Linked DNA regions of Homo sapiens. The protein of the gene in region 1 binds, or shares a complex with, the protein of each later gene. Each region holds a gene or a part of one and is shown in the gene's direction. Other genes may lie near its edges.

Evidence for each region. The genes of interacting proteins can lie anywhere in the genome.
Region 2: CIAO1 (region 1) and CIAO2A share a complex: the UniProt entries of both Homo sapiens proteins name them as parts of the CIA complex.
Region 3: CIAO1 (region 1) and MMS19 share a complex: the UniProt entries of both Homo sapiens proteins name them as parts of the MMXD complex.

The regions. Positions count from the first base shown.
Region 1 is NC_000002.12:96,262,167-96,269,245, forward strand, and holds the start of CIAO1 (probable cytosolic iron-sulfur protein assembly protein CIAO1), read left to right. Parts: upstream 1-4,058; 5' UTR 4,059-4,184; coding exon 4,185-4,323; intron 4,324-5,154; coding exon 5,155-5,303; intron 5,304-5,458; coding exon 5,459-5,570; intron 5,571-5,669; coding exon 5,670-5,758; intron 5,759-6,290; coding exon 6,291-6,492; intron 6,493-7,079. Other genes in the region: TMEM127 (transmembrane protein 127), read right to left, coding at 2,972-3,215. UniProt on the Homo sapiens protein: Key component of the cytosolic iron-sulfur protein assembly (CIA) complex, a multiprotein complex that mediates the incorporation of iron-sulfur cluster into extramitochondrial Fe/S proteins.
Region 2 is NC_000015.10:64,072,056-64,076,867, reverse strand, and holds the end of CIAO2A (cytosolic iron-sulfur assembly component 2A), read left to right. Parts: intron 1-1,330; coding exon 1,331-1,376; exon of another isoform or gene 1,377-3,839; coding exon 3,840-3,937; 3' UTR 3,938-4,303; downstream 4,304-4,812. UniProt on the Homo sapiens protein: Component of the cytosolic iron-sulfur protein assembly (CIA) complex, a multiprotein complex that mediates the incorporation of iron-sulfur cluster into extramitochondrial Fe/S proteins.
Region 3 is NC_000010.11:97,467,414-97,474,451, reverse strand, and holds part of MMS19 (MMS19 nucleotide excision repair protein homolog), read left to right. Parts: intron 1-3,590; coding exon 3,591-3,677; intron 3,678-4,248; coding exon 4,249-4,323; intron 4,324-4,728; coding exon 4,729-4,806; intron 4,807-5,325; exon of another isoform or gene 5,326-5,347; coding exon 5,348-5,486; intron 5,487-6,045; coding exon 6,046-6,200; intron 6,201-6,848; exon of another isoform or gene 6,849-6,868; coding exon 6,869-6,947; intron 6,948-7,038. UniProt on the Homo sapiens protein: Key component of the cytosolic iron-sulfur protein assembly (CIA) complex, a multiprotein complex that mediates the incorporation of iron-sulfur cluster into apoproteins specifically involved in DNA metabolism and genomic integrity.

The DNA.
Region 1 (7,079 bases):
GAGAATTGCTTGAACCCGGGAGGCGGAGGTTGCAGTGAGCTGAGATGGCGCCGCTGCACTCCAGCCTGGGTGACAGAGCAAGAGTCTGTCTCATTTAAAAAAAAAAAAAAAAAAACTCTATATGCACCACATCTGTGCTTGACAGCTCTGCTCCCTCTTGAGATGTGGAATACTCCAGGCTCTCAGGTCAGGATATCTGTTAGGCCCTGAGGATCAGCACAGTCACACAGGATACTACATGTCTGAAGGCCCACTGGGTACCAAAAAACCAGTAGGTACAAAGAAAAGGGAGAGAAGATGCAATCAAGGACTTCCGGATTCCTTACTGATTCTTCTGTGATAGCTCATGAGGCACCACTGCCAACTCTCCTATTAATGGGCACAAACTGCTCTTAGGAGATGGCCACAGGCAAGCAAGTAGAAACTATACACAGGTTAAGGTCTCTAAATATGTGAGCAAATGTAATGTAAAGGTTAAGAAAACATGCTTTGCAAAAGACAAAACGGAGCCTGAATAATTTCTTTCTTTTTAATTTTTGAGATGGAGTCTCACTCTGTAGCCCAGGCTGGAGTGCAGTAGTGTGATCTGGGCTCACTGCAACCTCACCTCCCAGGTTCAAGCGATTCTCCTGCCTCAGCCTCCTGGGTAGTTGAGGCACCAGCCACTAGGCCTGGCTAATTTTTGTATTTTTAGTTGAGATGGGGTTTCACCATGTTGGCCAGGCTGATCTTGAACTCCTGACCTCAGGTGATCCATCCGCCTTGGCCTCCCAAAGTACTGGGATTACAGGTGTGAGCCTCCATGCCTGGCCTGGCCCGAATAATTTCTTAGAAAGGGTAAATACACATGTGAACAAAGAAGAACCTGCACCAAGAATTTACTTTTTTTTTTTTTTTTGAGATGGAGTCTTGCTCTGCTCTGTTGCCCAGGCTGGAGTGCAGTGGTGTGATCTTGGGCTCACTGCAACTCCTCTACTTCCTGGGTTCAAGCGATTCGCCTGCCTCAGCCTTCAGAGTATCTGGGACTACAGGCGTGTGCCACCACACCCAGCTAATTTTTGTATTTTTAGTAGAGACAGGGTTTCTTTCACCATGTTAGCCAAGCTGGTCTCCAACTCTTGACCTCAGGCAATCCACCCGCCTCGGCCTCCCAAAGTGCTGGGATCAGAAGTGTGAGCCAGTTCCTGGCCTTTCTTTTTTTTTTTTTTTTTTTGAGATGGAGTTTCGCTCTTGTTGCCCAGGCTGGAGCGCAATGGCGCGATCTCAGCTCACTGCAACCTCGGCCTCCCAAGTTCAAGCGATTCTCCTGCTTCAGCCTCCCAAGTAGCTGGAATTACAGATGCCTGCCACCACGCCCGGCTCAAAAATTTACTTTTATTTTTAACATGCCTTCGACAAGGATGCACACCAAAGTGAAATAATTATGAGATTGCTCCTTATGACAGCTGAAGTAAAACAAAGGATAAAAACTATAAATGACACGGCATCATTTTATATTGGCATCAACAGAGGTGGGGTAGTCCCAGCTCTGCCACCCTAAACTGGGTAGCCTTGGGGAGATCCTTCATTTTTCTGAGCCACAGCTAAGCACACCCCATGCAGTGCTAGATTTCGGAGATCTAGCTTTCTAGATCTGATGGGTCTAGTGGTGGGAAGGTGGTATGTGTGCTTCAAAGAAAGCAAGTACAGGGCAATGTGCTAAAAGAAAAACCACCAAGACTCACTCAAGCTTAATGCTCTTTGTGCCATTAGCAACATGACAGAGAAAAGGCTGCATATAAGGCCTCTGTCGTGTGCATAACTTTGGCTTTAATGAGCCAACCCAGCAAAGAGTACCATTAAGGTGAAATCTGGAAACAACCAGTTGTCCCCAACCTTCTACAAAATCACCCTACAGCTTCTAAAACTCAAGAGAGATGCAAAACAGTAAGAGAACACTCAGAGAAAGGCAACATTTGGCCACAAGGATGAGGCTTTTCAGCCTAGACCTGCAGAAGCAGAGTATGGTCCGATGCACAGCGGGGAACTTGGACCTTTTCACCAAATCCCAGTGCCTGAATTCTTCAGGAGGTAACACGCAGATATCTAACAGGAAGTGCTTCTGATAGGCGGTGCAGTAAACATCTGGAATGCATCACAGCCAGGGAATAGCACAGACAGGATAGCACAGAGAGGATATAAGACCTTCAAGATGGCTCAAAAGACCTTGGGGTTGATGAACTATGCTGTTACTAAGGACTGTTTGGGGTACATTGATCATTGTTAGGGTAAAAAGCAGGTGATACAGTCCAGTCCTGTCCTCACACTTCACAATTTTTACTGGAGACAAGAATGGGCAGGATAAACTATGGGGCCCATAGGACCCTCCCATCGTCTGCTGTCTATCTGGCCGGAAAGCATGATGATGAACAAAGCAACCTTGCCTCTGTCAGGCACACCTATAATGGTTCCAAGAGCCACATTCCGACTGTTGTACTGCGGGTGGCAATGGAACGGTCTTCCGATTACCTAAAATGCCACAGATTCCCTTCTTCTCTAATACGCATCCGATTACCATAGAACTCTAAGATATCTTTTAAAACCTAGTCATATTAAAAGTTCCTTTTTCTCCATTAATCAGTCTGCCCCAAAGAAGCTTTTCCGTATTTCACAGGATCCTTAGAAGAGGCCAGCTAACTGTGATACCTAGCACCCTTATCTTTTCTCGATACACAGCGTCCTTCCTCCAGCAGAATCCTAAAATAGCAGCAGTCCGGATTAACATGGCTGTGAGGAGTAGGTGCTTAGCTGAATAACATCAGAATTAATGAGGGGCCGGACCCCAAACAGAGCCACCTGGTGGGCATGAACACCAGGCAGTTATGGGGCCGTTTCCTTCAACCAAGTGTCTGGTCCCTGGCTATCTCTGCTTCAGCCAGAACACATTCTGTCCCCCACCGAGGCTTTAAGGGCCAGCGCGCAGCACCCTCACCTTTCAGCAGGTCCGGGTGCACATAGCCCAACACGTCGGAGACCCCCAGCTCCTGGCGCGAACAGGTGCCTCCGTGGATGTGCAACCAGGCGGGCTCGGCGAGGGCAGTGCACAGCGCCGTGATAGACAGGGCGCCAGGCAGGGCCGAGGCCAGGCTACGCTCCGGCTGCTTGGGCAGAGCGCTGCCTCCCGGGCTCCTCCGCCGGCGCCCGCCGGGCAGCCCTGCGCCTCCGGGGGCGTACATGCCCGGGGCCGCCCGCCGTCGCTCCGCAGTCGCTGCTGGTCGCCGCCGACCTCCGCGGGGCGCGCAGAGCCTGACAGTCCGGTGGAGGATAGCAACGCTCCGGGTTCGCTGCAGGTGAAGCCGGGACTGGGCTGTCAGGGTTGACACCAGAGGATAGGGGGGTGGGACCCGGGGCTGACGGAGACGGGGAGGGCTGCGGGAATTCGGGGGGCGGAGACAGGAGACTCCGGAATGGGACTGCGGGACGACAACCGAAGAGGGCCAGGGGCCAGATGGGGTCTGGGCAGACTCGAGTGGGGGGCGGAGGGATCGGGGATCGGCTACTGCTAGAGCAAAGACCCGGAGTCAGGGTCTCAGCCAGAGGATGCCGAGGGGCGGAGGACCGGGCTGGGCCGCGGGGATCGGGGACCCGTGATCTGGGACCGGCGGTTTGGGGTGCGACCTGTGCGCAGAAAAGACCCTCCCCACGCCGCCCACTGTTCCTCACCAGTCAGCAGGCCCCAGGGCTGGGATGGTGCTGCTCAGCCCAGTCACGGGCTTCTCGGCTGCCGGGGGCCGAGCGTTCCCAGGCCCCAATCCCGCAACGCCCGGACAGACCCGGGGCCGATGCACTTCCGGCTTCCTCCTCCTCTGCCTCCGCCTCCTCCGGCTCCCCGCCCCGTCCCCCGCGCGCGTCACAGCCTGGGCGCGCCGCCGGCTCTGCGCAGGGCCTCACGGGACTGGTAGTTCGAGGCGGTCCCGCGATGCTTTCCCTGCCGAGGTGAGGGGAGCGACTACAACTCCCAGAGGGTATGGCGGCCGCAGCAGTGGGCAGTTGAGTTTCCGGGGCGACCCAGGTCCTCCGGCGGAAGCGGGAGCCTCTGTCGGCCGCGGAAGCCTGGAGTGGGCGGTACGCAGACGCGCGCGGTGAGACCCGCTGTCTGCTCAGCGGACTCTGCCCGCCCCCACCTCCCCCTGCGTCGGGCCGACATGAAGGACTCGCTGGTGCTGCTGGGCCGTGTCCCGGCGCACCCGGACTCCCGCTGCTGGTTCCTGGCCTGGAACCCCGCGGGGACCCTGCTGGCCTCGTGCGGCGGCGACCGGAGAATCCGCATCTGGGGCACGGAGGGTAAGGCCCAGCCTGGTTGCGCGGCCCTCAGCGCTGAGGGCTCAGCCTGCGCGTAGTGCAGGCGCTCAGCCTGCAGGGGAGGCTGAACCTGTTCCTGGCGGAGGGAGAGTGGGATGTTAGCCACGCCGAGAAGGGCTTTACAGGCAAAGAAGTCTGCGACTGTTGGGAGGAAAAACGTCAGCAGACAAGCTGAAATGTCAAGGGAATTGTGTTAGCTGCAGAGGCAGGAAAATGGGAAAAGAGAGGTGTTAGGAAAGTGGCCTTCAGAGTAACTTGCGACTGGATGGTCACATTTTATCCCGAGGGCATTGGGGAACCAATAGCAATTTTAGATCAGATTTGTTTTAGAAAGATGCCTCCAGAGGTTGGGCGCGGTGGCTCACGCCTGTAATCCTAGCAGTTTGGGAAGCAGAGGCGGGTAGATCACCTGAGGTCAAGAGGTCAAGACCAGCCTGGCCAACATGGTGAAACCCCGTCTCTACTAAAACTACAAAATTAGCTGGGCGTTGTGGCGGGCACCTGTAATCCCAGCTACTCGGGAGGCTGAGGCAGGAGAATCCCTTGAACCCAGGAGGCGAAGATTGCAGTGAGCCGAGATTGTGCCATTGCACCCCAGCCTGGGCATCAGAGCAAAAACTCCGTCTCAAAAAAAAAAAAAAAAAAAAAAAAAAGCTTCCAGACGAAGTAGATTCATTTGCATCTTTGTAAAAGCTGTGAAATACACTCCCTGAGCTTTCCCCCACTAGCTTGATTCCAGTGCTAGCCCCTGATATTGAATGGCTTCATGGTGCTGCACCCAGCTCCAGAGCCTGGCCTGCGCTCCGCCTTTAGGTGACAGCTGGATCTGCAAGTCTGTCCTTTCTGAAGGCCACCAGCGCACCGTGCGGAAGGTAGCCTGGTCCCCCTGCGGTAATTACCTGGCCTCTGCCAGCTTTGATGCTACCACTTGCATTTGGAAGAAGAACCAGGATGACTTTGAGGTACCCAGGCTGGTTGGGACCAGAATTATTGCCTGTTTCCTCCCCAGGGCTGGTTCAGGAACCTGAGCCAACCTGCGCCAGTTGGGCTGTACCCATGGGAAGGGGCTTAGGGGTGTTAGCTGCTGTTAATTCTCATTTTCTTTCCCCTTTCACAGTGTGTAACCACTCTCGAGGGCCATGAAAATGAGGTCAAGTCAGTGGCTTGGGCCCCATCTGGCAACCTCCTGGCCACTTGCAGCCGAGATAAGAGCGTTTGGGTCTGGGAAGGTGAGGCCAGGTCCCTCCAGGTGGATTGGGAACCACCTGACAGCCCCCTCTGTGTCCCTGACAGGGTCGGCTCTTGGGTCCCCTTTTTCTCTCCCACAGTTGATGAAGAGGATGAGTATGAATGTGTCAGTGTTCTCAACTCCCACACACAGGATGTCAAGCATGTGGTTTGGCACCCAAGTCAGGAGGTAAGAGTCAAGCAGGGACTCTTGTGGGAAGGGCTCTGGTGTGCAGGCTTGTGCCCAGCCTTCCTCTGCTTTTCAGCCTTAATCTAGCTTTTACGGAGAGTTCCATCTGTGAACAAAAAACATTAGTCCCTTTATAAAAACAGATCCGGCTGGGTGTGGTGGCTCACACCTATAATCTCAGCACTTTGGGAGGCCATGGTGGGTGGATCATCTGAGGTCAGGAGTTCGAGACCAGCCTGGCCAACATGGTGAAACTCCGTCTCTACTAAAAATACAAAATTAGCGGGCATGGTGGCACATGCCTGTAATCCCAGCTATTCGGGAGGCTGAGGCAGGAGAATCACTTGAACCCAGGAGACGGGGGTTACGGTGAGCCGAGATCGTGCTATTGCACTCCAGCCTGGGCAACAACAGCAAACTTCATCTCAAATAAATAATAAAATAAAATAAAAGCAGATACCTGGAACTGACCTGTCCTTTGCTTCCTGGGCCACACAGACACATGTTGGGTTTCCTTTCACTCTTCCCCCAGCTCTTAGCTTCTGCCAGCTATGATGACACAGTGAAGCTGTACCGGGAGGAAGAGGATGACTGGGTATGCTGTGCCACCCTTGAGGGCCATGAATCCACTGTGTGGAGCTTGGCCTTTGACCCGAGTGGCCAGCGCCTGGCGTCTTGTAGTGATGACCGTACTGTGCGTATCTGGCGTCAGTATCTACCAGGCAATGAACAAGGTGAGGTCCATTAGTAGAGCTAAAGAAGACCCATCTCTCAAGGGGTTCACAGTCTGCTAAGACACGTACATGAGTCAGAGCAAATGGGGGTAAAAGGTAAGATGTGCTACAAGAGGGCTCTGGATAGAGTGCTGGAAGAATCAGGAAAGTTTTGTAGAATGGGTTGTTTCATCTGAATTTAAAAGGGTATGTAGGATTTTAACATGAGAATTTCACGTGAGAATTCAAGTGAAAACTCAACAGTGTGAGTAAAGATAACAATGGCGGGAATGCTTAGACTGAGGGGTGGTAATGCATTTAAATGGGGCATAGGACGTCTGGGGTTTGGAGAGGAATAAAGTGGGTTGGGTCGGCTGGTGGGTGGCCTTCACAGGCACGCAAAGTAGTTACATACAGTCTGCAACAGAACAGGGATGTTTCCTCGGAATTCTGCTTGAGAAACGCCAGTCTGGCTATAGTGTGTAAGGCAGATAAGCAGGGATGGGGACACGAACGGAGACACAGACTCATAATCAGTTGAAGATGAGGGTGAGGGAAGGTAAGTTAGGTTCTCCTTTGAGGTGCCCAGGACATAGGAACGTTTAAGG
Region 2 (4,812 bases), on another chromosome or scaffold:
AGGAGAGGGGTGGGAGTGTGGGAGCTGAGGTGGGAGGATCACCTGAGCCCAGGAAGTCGAGGCTGTAGTGAGACATGATCGCGCCACTGCACTCCAGCCTAGGCGACAGAGTAAGACCTGTCTCAAAAAAAAAAAAAAAAAAAAGATTGGACTAGATGACCTTTAAGGTCCCTTTTAACTATAATAAGTTATGATTTTTCTCACTCATGAGAAATGTTTATCTCCGTAGTAAATAAGTAAATAAAAATTAGTTCATATGTTCCAGTGTTCTCTGGAAAGTAGACGTCTTTATTACAGCATACTCTCTTTACCACAGGATTTGCAATAATTTTGTAGGTTGTCTTAAAAGCTCTGGGTCTTGGAGGGTAGCTCATGTCTATAGGTGCAGCAGGGCCAGGAGGGATAGCTTAACCAGTATTATACTTGAGAATAAATTTAGCATGATAATAATGAATGAGAAAAGAAGGATGCTGAAAACTATATTGTGATCCCATTTTTGTAAAACAAGCAATGTGAAGAAACTTCCAACCCTGATATGTGGGTGTGTGTGTGTGTAAAATCTGTGTAAGATTATGTGGGTAAAGAGAAGAATATGGAAGAAACCACACTAGATTGTTATTGTAGATTTCCTGAGTCAGTAGCAGGGCAGGAGGAAGTTTAGATACCGAGTTGGGAAGAAGTAGAGTGCAGAAAAGAGATATTCTTAAGTAAAACCACACATATGAGATCTCATTTGTGTAAAATGATATTTTTGTGTATTCATAAAAAAATTAATGGAAATACCACCTGCAGGCCTTTTCCAGGTGAACAAAATAAAAAATCCTACTCATTTCAGTCCTTTTTTTTTTTAGAGAAGGATGTGGGGGATTTGTCCCTATGTCTCTGATGTTAGAAACAGGATTTGGGGGGCGCTGGGCGCAGTGGCTCACGCCTGTAATCCCAACACTTTGGGAAGCCGAGGCGGATCACCTGAGGTCAGGAGTTTGAGACCAGTCTGGCCAACATGGCGAAACCCCATCTCTACTAAAAAAAAAAAATAATAATACAAAACTTAGCTGGGTGTGGTGGCGTCTGCCTGTAATTCCAGCTATTGGGAGGCTGAGGTAGGAGAATTGCTTGAACCCAGGAGGCGGAGGTTGCAGTGAGCCGAGATCATGCCACTGCACTCCAGCCTGGGCAACAGGGTGAGACTCCATCTCAAAAAAAAAAAAAAAGAAACAGGATTTGGGCACTCATCCCTAGATGTTTGAATTTACTGTACATTCCACTTCACTCTCTTATCTTAGAATGCATTAATGTTTTTTCTTTTACTTTTTTTCCCACTTTCCAGTTGGAAATCTACATTTCTGAAGGAACCCACTCAACAGAAGAAGACAGTAAGTGAATGTTGAAACATAATTGAAAAACAACTTCAGATAGTATTTTATCTTGGATACTGGATTCTTCTGCCAGCCAAGAATCTACTGGGTTACTTTCAAAAAAGTGCACAATTGGTTATTGGCTCTTCCTTCCTAGGTGAGGAAACCTAGGCATTTCAAAGAAGTAATTTTTGCAGTGGACTCCGAGTGCACTAGAGCCCACGGATGTTGACTGGTTTAGGCCAGTGGCTACACATCTGTAAAGAATATCCAGTGCTGGGGACCTTGACTTATGAGCTCTAAGTAGGCTTCTTTTCTTTGGTGACAGGATAGAGAGCTGTGTACTTGAAATTGAAGGTCTAGCAAGTAGAGCTTTAGTGAATCTTGGGGTAGGTGCTGTCTCTCTGGGTTAGTATATTAGAATGGGAGTGGGGAACCTTTTTTATATAGAGGACCTCTGGCCTACAGAGAGAAATCAATCAGTAGCTACTTAAAAATAGCAGAAGTGGGGTTTGGGAAAAGCAAAAAACAAAATGTTCTGTATGATCCCTGTGTTACATTAAAAACATAATTTTAATGTTTTTAATCTACAAATGATAGAGTGCAAATAATGAGAAATACATTTAAAAGGCATGTTGTACTTAAGTTTCATCACTAAGTAAATTGAGAAGGTGGGAAAAAATAGCAGAGGAATGGAAGAAAGAGCTAATAGAGGAAGAGCAACAGTGAGATAGATACCAAGAAGACTCAGAAAGGCATACACAGGGCTGGAGAGAGACACACAAAATCTCCTACATAAAAGAGAGCTATAGAGAGGGAAGCCTGCTGCTTCCAGAGGAACAGCCTATCCAGGAAACTTTTTAGGTACTGTCATGAAAACTGTTAAAAACCATGCCCTATTTATAGTTCTAGACATGTAGATTATTATACTCTTTGTGGGCTGAATTTCTTTAAACCCCACGAGCTGAGGGCTTCTACCTGTAATTTAGAAAAATAAGAGTTTAGGTACCCTAAATCCACTCAGGTTATCGTTTTGAAATTCCTTGAATGATAGGATTTTACAGCAGCAATAGTATTAAGTCTTATGAGTCTTGTTTTTCATTTAGTAAGTATTTATTAAGTGCCTTCTATGTGTGGGTACAGTTCAGCCTTTGAGATACATTCCTGCCTTTGTGGAGCCTACATTGTAGTAGGAAGAAACCAAATTGAAAGTATTTTCGCAGGAATATGTGTATGTTTGTGTGTCTTCTACATGAGACATTTCAGCGGCAGCCCAGAAAACTCAATCCACATTAAGAATATAGTCGTCTCTCTTTTGAACTCTTCTATTAAGAATGCTGTTAGCTAATTACAGAAAACATAATGGGCCAATACCTTTATTATATGAAGATCCATTCAAACTAATTTTAAAAAAAGATCTAGTAGATTAATAGAGACATGAACAGGAAATTCATGCAAGAAGAACTAATATATGCACATGGAAAATGTTCTATTTTCCTATTAGTCAAGGAAATGCAAATTATGACAATAATATTGAGCCGTTTTCCATCTCCTGTTTTATGTATGTATATATGTGTATTTGTTTTTATTAAATAATACCAGCTATTGCCCGGGCATGGTGGTTCACACCTGTAACCCTAGCACTTTGGGAGGCCAAGGCGAGAGAATGCCTTGAGGGAAGGAGTTTGAGGCCAGGATTTCAAGACTAGCCTGGGCAACATGGTGAGACCCTGTCTCTACGAAAATATTTGAAAATTAGCCAGGTGTGGTGGTTCATGCCTGTGGGAGGCTGAGGTAGGAGGATCTCTTGAGCCCAGGAGTTGGAGGTTACAGTGAGCTATGATTGCACCACTGCACTCCAGCCTGGATGACAGAGCAGGACCCTGTCTCAAAGAATAATAATAACAATGATAATAATACCAGGTATTGTTGCCAAACTGATAGCTCATGTATTGGTGTTGACAATATAAACTGGTGAGTAATTTTAGGAAGTAAATCAATGATATGAATCACACCATAAAAATATTCATACTCTTAAAAATAATCCCATTTTTGAGAATATTTCCAAAAAGAAGGCTATATGTTTAAAGGTATTCATTGTAGCATAGTCTTCATAATTACTTTAGAACACTTAAGACTTTTACCATGTTAAATAACCCTGTAGTTTAAAATATAGGCTTATGGGGGAAAAAATAGCAATTTTCAAAATTATATTTACTCTGAATGTAACTGTATAAAAATATGTGTATGGACAAAGACTGGAAAGAAAAAAATAGATGTGGTTAAGTAGTAGAATTCTAGTAGATATTTTTCTCTTAAGTCTGCCTTCTAGATGGGAAATTACATTATGAGTAATTAGCCAAAAACAGGTTTAAGTTCTCAAGGAGTTAAAGTTTTTGTTTCAGCAGGCTAATAAAAATACTGTCTGGTGCTGTATATTGACACAGTTCTTCTGCTAACTTTTGTCTGTGTATTTTTCAGTCAATAAGCAGATAAATGACAAAGAGCGAGTGGCAGCTGCAATGGAAAACCCCAACTTACGGGAAATTGTGGAACAGTGTGTCCTTGAACCTGACTGATAGCTGTTTTAAGAGCCACTGGCCTGTAATTGTTTGATATATTTGTTTAAACTCTTTGTATAATGTCAGAGACTCATGTTTAATACATAGGTGATTTGTACCTCAGAGTATTTTTTAAAGGATTCTTTCCAAGCGAGATTTAATTATAAGGTAGTACCTAATTTGTTCAATGTATAACATTCTCAGGATTTGTAACACTTAAATGATCAGACAGAATAATATTTTCTAGTTATTATGTGCAAGATGAGTTGCTATTTTTCTGATGCTCATTCTGATACAACTATTTTTCGTGTCAAATATCTACTGTGCCCAAATGTACTCAATTTAAATCATTACTCTGTAAAATAAATAAGCAGATGATTCTTATAATGACTCACTGTTTTTATTGAATTGTAAATTCCAGTGTAAATGTCAACTCCTAAAGGATATCTTCAAAGCTTTATTTTTGCTGATTATTTTGTAGAATCAGAGATCTGAGAACCAAAAGGAACCCTTAAGATTGGGCCTTCCTTCCTTCCAAGGAGAGTCCTGGACCCTTTCATAGATAAGGAACAAATGTGGAGAAGGCTAGATGGCATACACAATTTTGAAGATCAAGAAGTCCACCAAAGAAGTTTTGATTAAACCAACCTAAATGTATGGTCCGCACTTTATCTGTCCTTCATTTGGTTTGTTTTAGGGGTTAATGGTCATGTGAAGTATAGTAGCCTCCAACATGGCCCCCAAGATCCTCACTTCCTGGTATTCATGCCCTTGTATAGTTAACTTCCATATTGAATTGGAGCTGATGGGTGTGGCTAATAAAGAATGGCAGAGTGACAATGGGTGACTTCTGAGGCTAGATCATAAAAGGTATTGCTGTTTTCACCTTAGGC
Region 3 (7,038 bases), on another chromosome or scaffold:
CTCAGCCACCTGAATAGCTGGGATTACAGTACGTGCCACCATGCCTGACTAATTTTTTTTTTATATTTTTTAGTAGAGATGGGGTTTTGCCATGTTGTCCAGGTTGGTCTCGAACTCCTCACCTCAACTGATCTACCTGCCTCGGCCTCCCAAAGTGCTGGGATTACACGTGTGAGCCACATATCCAGCCACAAATCAGTATTGTGTGCCATCATAGTGGATCTGATGAGCTTAAGGTTCAGTTTCTTCACTATGCTTATATGCTCACTCTAAGAAGAGGTTGGCAAACTTTTTCTTTCCCTTTTTTTTTTTTTTTTTTGAGGCAGGCTGGAGTGTAGTGGCACCATCACAGCTCACTGCAGCCTCCACCTCTCTGGACTCTGGTACTCTGGTGATCCTCCCACCCCTGCCTCCCGAGTAGCTGGAACCATAGGCACATGACACTACTCCCGACTAATTGTTGTATTTTTCTATAGAGACAGGATTTTGCCATGTTGCCCAGGCTGGTCTTGAATTCCTGGGCTCAAGCCATCCACCTGCCTCGACTTCCCAAAGTGTTGGGATTACAGGCATAAGCCACCATGCCTGGCCAACTTTTTCTATAAAAGGCCAGACAGTAGCTTTGTGGGTCATATGGTCTCCTCAACTCTGCTGTTACTGCACAAAAACAGCCTTAGACACAGGAACAGCTACAGTAGCTATATCCCAATAGAACTTTTGTTATCAACACTAAACTTTGAATTTCATATAATTTTCACTTGTCACAAGATATTCTTTTGGTTTGTTTCAAACATTAAAAATGTTAAAACCATTCTTAGCCAAACAATGTCAACAGGTTGATTTTTACTCCTAATGCAGAGTAGATATTGGTTCTTCCTTCACCGTCATCCTAGATTCCCTTATCCTTTTTCTTGGATCAGATCTCCTGTTTCCTGAGTTCACATATTCCTCATTTTGTGGTTTACCCCCTCAGTTTGATGGTGTACTTCCTTTAGTATTTTCCTGAGAGAATGTATGAAGAAGTGAGAATTTTTTAGATTTGTAACCCTTAAATGCCTTCAATCTTGTCTCTCATTTTTGACATTATGGGCATGTAATTCAAGAATAGAAATTCTAGGCCGGGCGCAGTGGCTCACACCTGTAATCTAAGCACTTTAAGAGGCCGAGGCGGGTGGATCACTTGAGGTCAGGAGTTCGAGACTAGCCTGACCAACATGGTGGAATCCCGTCTCTACTAGAAATACAAAAATTAGCTAGGCGTGGTAGCAGGCGCCTGTAATCTCAGCTACTTGGGAGGCTGAGGCAGGAGAATTGCTTGAACCTGGGAGGCGGAGGTTACAGTGAGCCGAGATCACGCCATTGCACTCCAGCTTAGGCAACAAGAGTAAAACTCCATCTCAAAAAAAAAAATAAATAAAAAGAGAATTCTAGCTGGATGCAGTTGCACATGTCTGCAGTCCCAGCTACTTGTGAGGCTGAGGCAGAACAATCACTTGAGGCCAGGAGTTTGAGGCTGTAGTGCACTATGATTGCACCTGAGAAAGAGGCCAGGTGCAGTAACTGACGCTTGTAATCCCGCTACTTTGGGAGGCTGAGGCAGGTGGATTGCTTGAGCTCAGGAGTTCAAGACCAGCCCGGGCACCATGGCAAAACCTTGTCTATAAGAAATACAAAAATTAACTGGGCGTGGTGGTCGAGTCTGTAGCCCCTGCTACTCGGGAGGTGGAGGTGGGAGGATGGCTTGGGCTGGGGAGGCAGAGGTTGCATTGAGCCAAGATCATGCCTCTGCACTCCAGCCTGGAAGACAGAGCCAGACTCAGTCACCAAAAAACCAAAAACAAAAACAAAAAAAAAATGGAAATTATTTTCTCCTAAGATTTTGAAGGCATTGCTACATTTAAATCTAGTTATTGGCTGGGCGTGGTGGCTCATGCCTGTAATCTCAACACTTCGAAAGGCCAAGGCAGGCGGATCACCTGAGGTCAGGAGTTCAAGACCAGCCTGGCTAACATGGTGAAACCCCATTTCTACTAAAAATACAAAAAAATTAGCCGGGCATGGTGGCGTGAGCCTGTAATCCCAGCCACTCGGGAGACAGGCAGGAGAATCGCTTGAATCCTGGAGGCAGAGGCTGCAGTGAGCCAAGATCGTGCCATTGCACTCCAGCTTGTGTAACAAGAGCAAAACTCCATCTCAAATAAATAAATAAGCCTAGTTATCTAGTTTTCATTTGCTGTGGAGAAGTCTGAATTTCTTCTGTTTCATAAACTTTTGTATTTACCATTTTTTTCTTCCTCTCTATAAACTGATGTTTGGTTCACCCCGATACATTGAAACTTCACAGTGATGTGCCTTAGTATTGGTCTATTTCATGTACTGTGTTGGGTACTTAGTAGGCCCTGTCAATCTGGTAACCCGTGTCCATTAGTCCTGTAAATTTTTCTTGAATTCTTTAATTGATGATTTCTTCCTCTCTCTTTTCTCTGTTCCTTCATTTTGGAACTCTCATTAATCTTCTGTTGGACCTCTGATTTTCTGACCTTTTGTTTTCTATTTTGTACCTCTGTCTTTTTGTTACTTTATAAGAGAATTCCACAGTTTTATCTTTTCTATCAAAGTCCAGTCATGAAAACAGAAACCAGGCCAGGTTCGGTGGCTTACGCCTGTAATCCCAGCACTTCGGGAGGCTGAGGTGGGTGGATCATTCGAGGTCAGGAGTTCCAGACCAGCCTGGCCAACATGATGAAACCCCATGTCTACAAAAAATATATAAAAATTAGCCAGGTGTGTTGGTGCGCCTGTAACCCCAGCTACTTGGGAGGTTGAGACATGAGAATCACTTGAACCTAGGAGGTGGAGGTTGCACTGAGCTAGGATCAAGCCACTGCAATCCAGCATGGGTGACAGAGTGAGACTCTGTCTCAAAAAAAAATAATAATAATAATAGTAAATCCCTTCTTTTACTATGTTTTTGGTGGAGTTTGCAAAGAGGAAAAGGAAAACCTGATATATGTTTTCAGTCTGTCGTCTTGGTACAGAAACCATCAAGGCTTTCTGTTTTCAGAATTACAGCTTTTTATAAGGGTGAAAAAAATGGAAATGTCCATCAACAAGGAATTATCTAGATAAACTGGTACAACCACAAAATGAAATCATAGCCACTAAAACTAATGCTATGAAAGAATAATACCATAAAAATGTTCTTAATATGTTAAGTGAAAAAAATTAAAAACCACATGTACAAAATGATTTTTAAGTATATATATATTTTATATGGAAACAGTATATACTAGCACATAGTAACAATATATATCAGCGAAGAAAGGAATACACCAGAAAGTTAAGCATGCTTATTTCTGAGTGGTGAAATGATAGAAAATGTGTAATCAGATTTTTTAAAATGCCTAAAGACAAAAGTTCCCAAGGAGTACCTAAGATCAAGCAAGTCTTCTTGCTGGGGCCTCATTATCTTACTATCTTCCCTGATTGGGTATGAGTATCACCCTGTTCTGCAGGGTTACCAGGTTCGAGCCTGTGTTCAAGGTGGTCTGAAATGTTACACAAACCCACAGCCCTTCTCCCTTTTCCAGCCACCTAATGATCCCCATGGTATCCAGAGAGAAGACCTCATCCTGAGTCTTCGCGCTGTGCTGGCTTCTACACCACGATTTGCTGAGGTGGGTCTAGCCAAGGTTAGGGTATATAGCCTCTGCCCATAGATGGCTCTGAAGAAAGAGCAGTAAAAGCATGGAGAAAAAAATATCTGGTATACATTTTAGGGCATGACACCCTGCAAGTGTCTTGTGTGGCAGGTATCTTCAGACCTTCGATGTAGAAAACTTTACCATCTCTTCATAATCCAGAGCTGGATTCAGTGGCACACACCTATAGTTCCAGCTACTCAGGAGGAGTCTGAGTGGAAAGGATCACTTAAACCCAGGAGTTCAAATCCAGCCTGGGCAACATAGGGAGACCTCGTCTCCGCTACACAAAAAAATAAATAAACCCAATCCCTATATGGTGCTGTCTTTTAAAATCCTGTAACTTTGTCAACTTGCCTGTTTTTGAGGTAGTGGGGCTCTGGTCACTGCTTGGCAGGAAGGTTAGCTTACATTCATAGCTCCTGACTTGAGTACAGCTCCTTGATGTAGTACCTGCTTTTAGGGACTGATGGCAAGGACAGGGTTGACCTTGATGTGACTGACACACCACCCATCTCAGGCTTAAGATCTTCCTTCTGTCCCACAGTTTCTGCTGCCCCTGTTGATTGAGAAAGTGGATTCTGAGGTTCTGAGTGCCAAGTTGGATTCTCTACAGACTCTGGTGAGTGATTTTTCTCCTTGCAGGACCCAGCTACCTTTTGACAAGTTAGGGGTCCTAAAGGATATAGATTCTAGGATAGCCAAGGAACAGTTCATGGGCCTCAGAAGAGGATACCCAGGATTTGGGCCTTTGTGTCGACCTGAAGCCCCCAGCTGCATATCGTCGTGTCCCATCCCCCATCCCATAGTAACTGAGGAAAGGCTGACCAGGACTCCCTCTTTAGGCTTCTATTTTATCAACCAGGGTTATCTCCTACTTCTCTGTTCCCTTAGTAGGACTGTTAAAAATCTTAACTGGTTTTTCTGCTGAGACCAGGGCTCCTTCAGGTGCCATTATGCTGAGGTACCTGCACATCCTAGGGTGTCTGAGTGTGTACATAACTGATAGCAGCGGTTTCCTTGGCAGAATGCTTGCTGTGCTGTGTATGGACAGAAGGAACTGAAGGACTTCCTCCCCAGCCTTTGGGCTTCTATCCGCAGAGAGGTGAGTGTCACTCAGATAAACTCACTACTGTTAACTTTCAATTGTCAGGCATGAGGGGAAATAATACATCCTGTCCTTTTCCCTCTGTCATCCCCAGGGCCAAGATATAATGCCTGGTTATTCAGGAGGCAAGTAGGGGGACATAATTCTAGTTGAATGACAAGAGAGAGAGTCCCTATGTGACGGTCAGCTGCTTGGTAAGAGCAGCTGATCACCTTTGCACATTACCCACTTCTTGTCCTTCTGTGGCAAGGAGTGCAGGTCATGGTGCCTTTGGCACCATGGTGAATAGAAAGGTGAGCAGAGCCACTGCTCAGAGTTGGCTTTTTGTTTCTCAGAAAGTATGTGTCTCTGTCCTGAGTGTGACTAAGGACTTGGTAAGAACACACCAATTGAGAAGACACTCAGTTGGGGTGTTAATTTCCATTTCTGTGTCCTAGAGGTTCTCACTCCCCTCTCCAACAAGGAAATAGGCAGTGGATTGGTGGGGTCTCATCTGGTGCAGGCTCACCTCAGTAGCCATGGGATCCCTCCCTGACAGGTGTTCCAGACGGCAAGTGAGCGGGTGGAGGCAGAGGGCCTGGCGGCCCTCCACTCCCTGACTGCGTGTTTGTCTCGCTCTGTGCTGAGGGCTGATGCTGAGGACCTCCTTGACTCCTTCCTTAGCAACATTCTACAGGGTAATGGGGCCGTGGCAGCCAGGAAGGGGAGTGAGCACAATAGAAACGACATTCCTTGCCTGGGTGCGGTGGCTCACGCCTGTAATCCCTGCACTTTAGGAGGCCGAGGCGGGTGGATCACCTGAGGTCAGGAGTTAAAGACCAGCCTGGCCAACATGGTGAAACCTCGTCTCTACTAAAAATACAAAAATTAGCCGGGCGTGGTGGTGGACGCCTGTAATCCCAGCTACTCGGGAGGCTGAGGCAGGAGAATCGCTTGAAAAGGCAGAGGTTGCGGTGAGCTGAGATTGCGCCACTGCACTCCAGCTTGGGCAACGAGAGCAAAACTCCATCTCTAAAAAAAAAACAAATGACATTCCTTAAGGGCCAGTGACCTTTATTGTTTAGTCCCAACATATTTGGTGATTTGGGGGCGATAGCCCTACTTTGAATTGAAAACAATTTGAGTGTTAACTGCTTGCAAACTGTCATGGGTCTCAGTCTCCAACCTCTGTGGACTGTAGGGGAGTCAGGCACCATTTGGCCTCCTCCCCAGCTCTGTGATGTGCTGCTTCTCTAGACTGCAGGCACCACCTGTGTGAACCGGACATGAAACTGGTGTGGCCTAGTGCCAAGCTGTTGCAGGCAGCTGCAGGTGCATCTGCCCGGGCCTGTGACTCTGTCACCAGCAATGTACTGCCTTTACTGCTGGAACAGTTCCACAAGCACAGTCAGGTAAGGGAGCAGAATCTTTGGGGGAAATGATGGGACCTGTGTGCTAGGTTCCCTTTCTCAGAGAGTGAGCTAAGTTTTAGCTTGGGCCAACATAGTAGACCTTGGGTTTTGCTCCCATTAGCTGCTGCTGCTGCTTCCCTTACTCACTTTTTCCCTGTCTCATACATAAAAGGATCATTCTCCCAAGACAGGAGGATAGCTTGAAGCCAGGAGTTCAAGATCAGCCTGGGCAACAAAGTGAGATCCCATCTCTAAAAAAAAAAAAATTTTTTTTAAATTAGCCAAGCAGGACATGCTGGTTCATGCCTGTAATCCCAGCACTTTAGGAGACCAAGGCAGGACAATCACTTGAGGCTAGGATTTAAAGACCAGCTTGGGCAACAAGACAAGACCACATCTCTACAAAAAAAAAAAAAAAAAATTAGCTGGATAAGGTGGCACGCATCTGTAGTCCCAGCTACTCAAGAGGCTGAGGCGAGAGAATCACTTGAACCTAGGAGGTCGGGGCTGCAGGGAGCTATAATCATGCTACTGTATTCCAGCCTGGCTGTGGCATAGCAAAACCCCCATCTCTTGGAAGAAAGAAAGAATTTTCCCTATATCCAGAGTAGCAGGATTGAAATCCTTTAAAATATTCTTTGACTCTAGTACCCCTTGAAACGTTACAGAGCAGCCAGCGGCGGACAATCCTTGAAATGCTCCTGGGTTTCTTGAAGCTGCAGCAGAAATGGAGCTATGAAGACAAAGGTGAGGTTGCCTTCCATTGCAGTGCTCTGGGGACTGTTGAACACTTCAGCCTATAAAGGATAGCAGGGCAAAGAGTGCTGTGGAAAAGTAG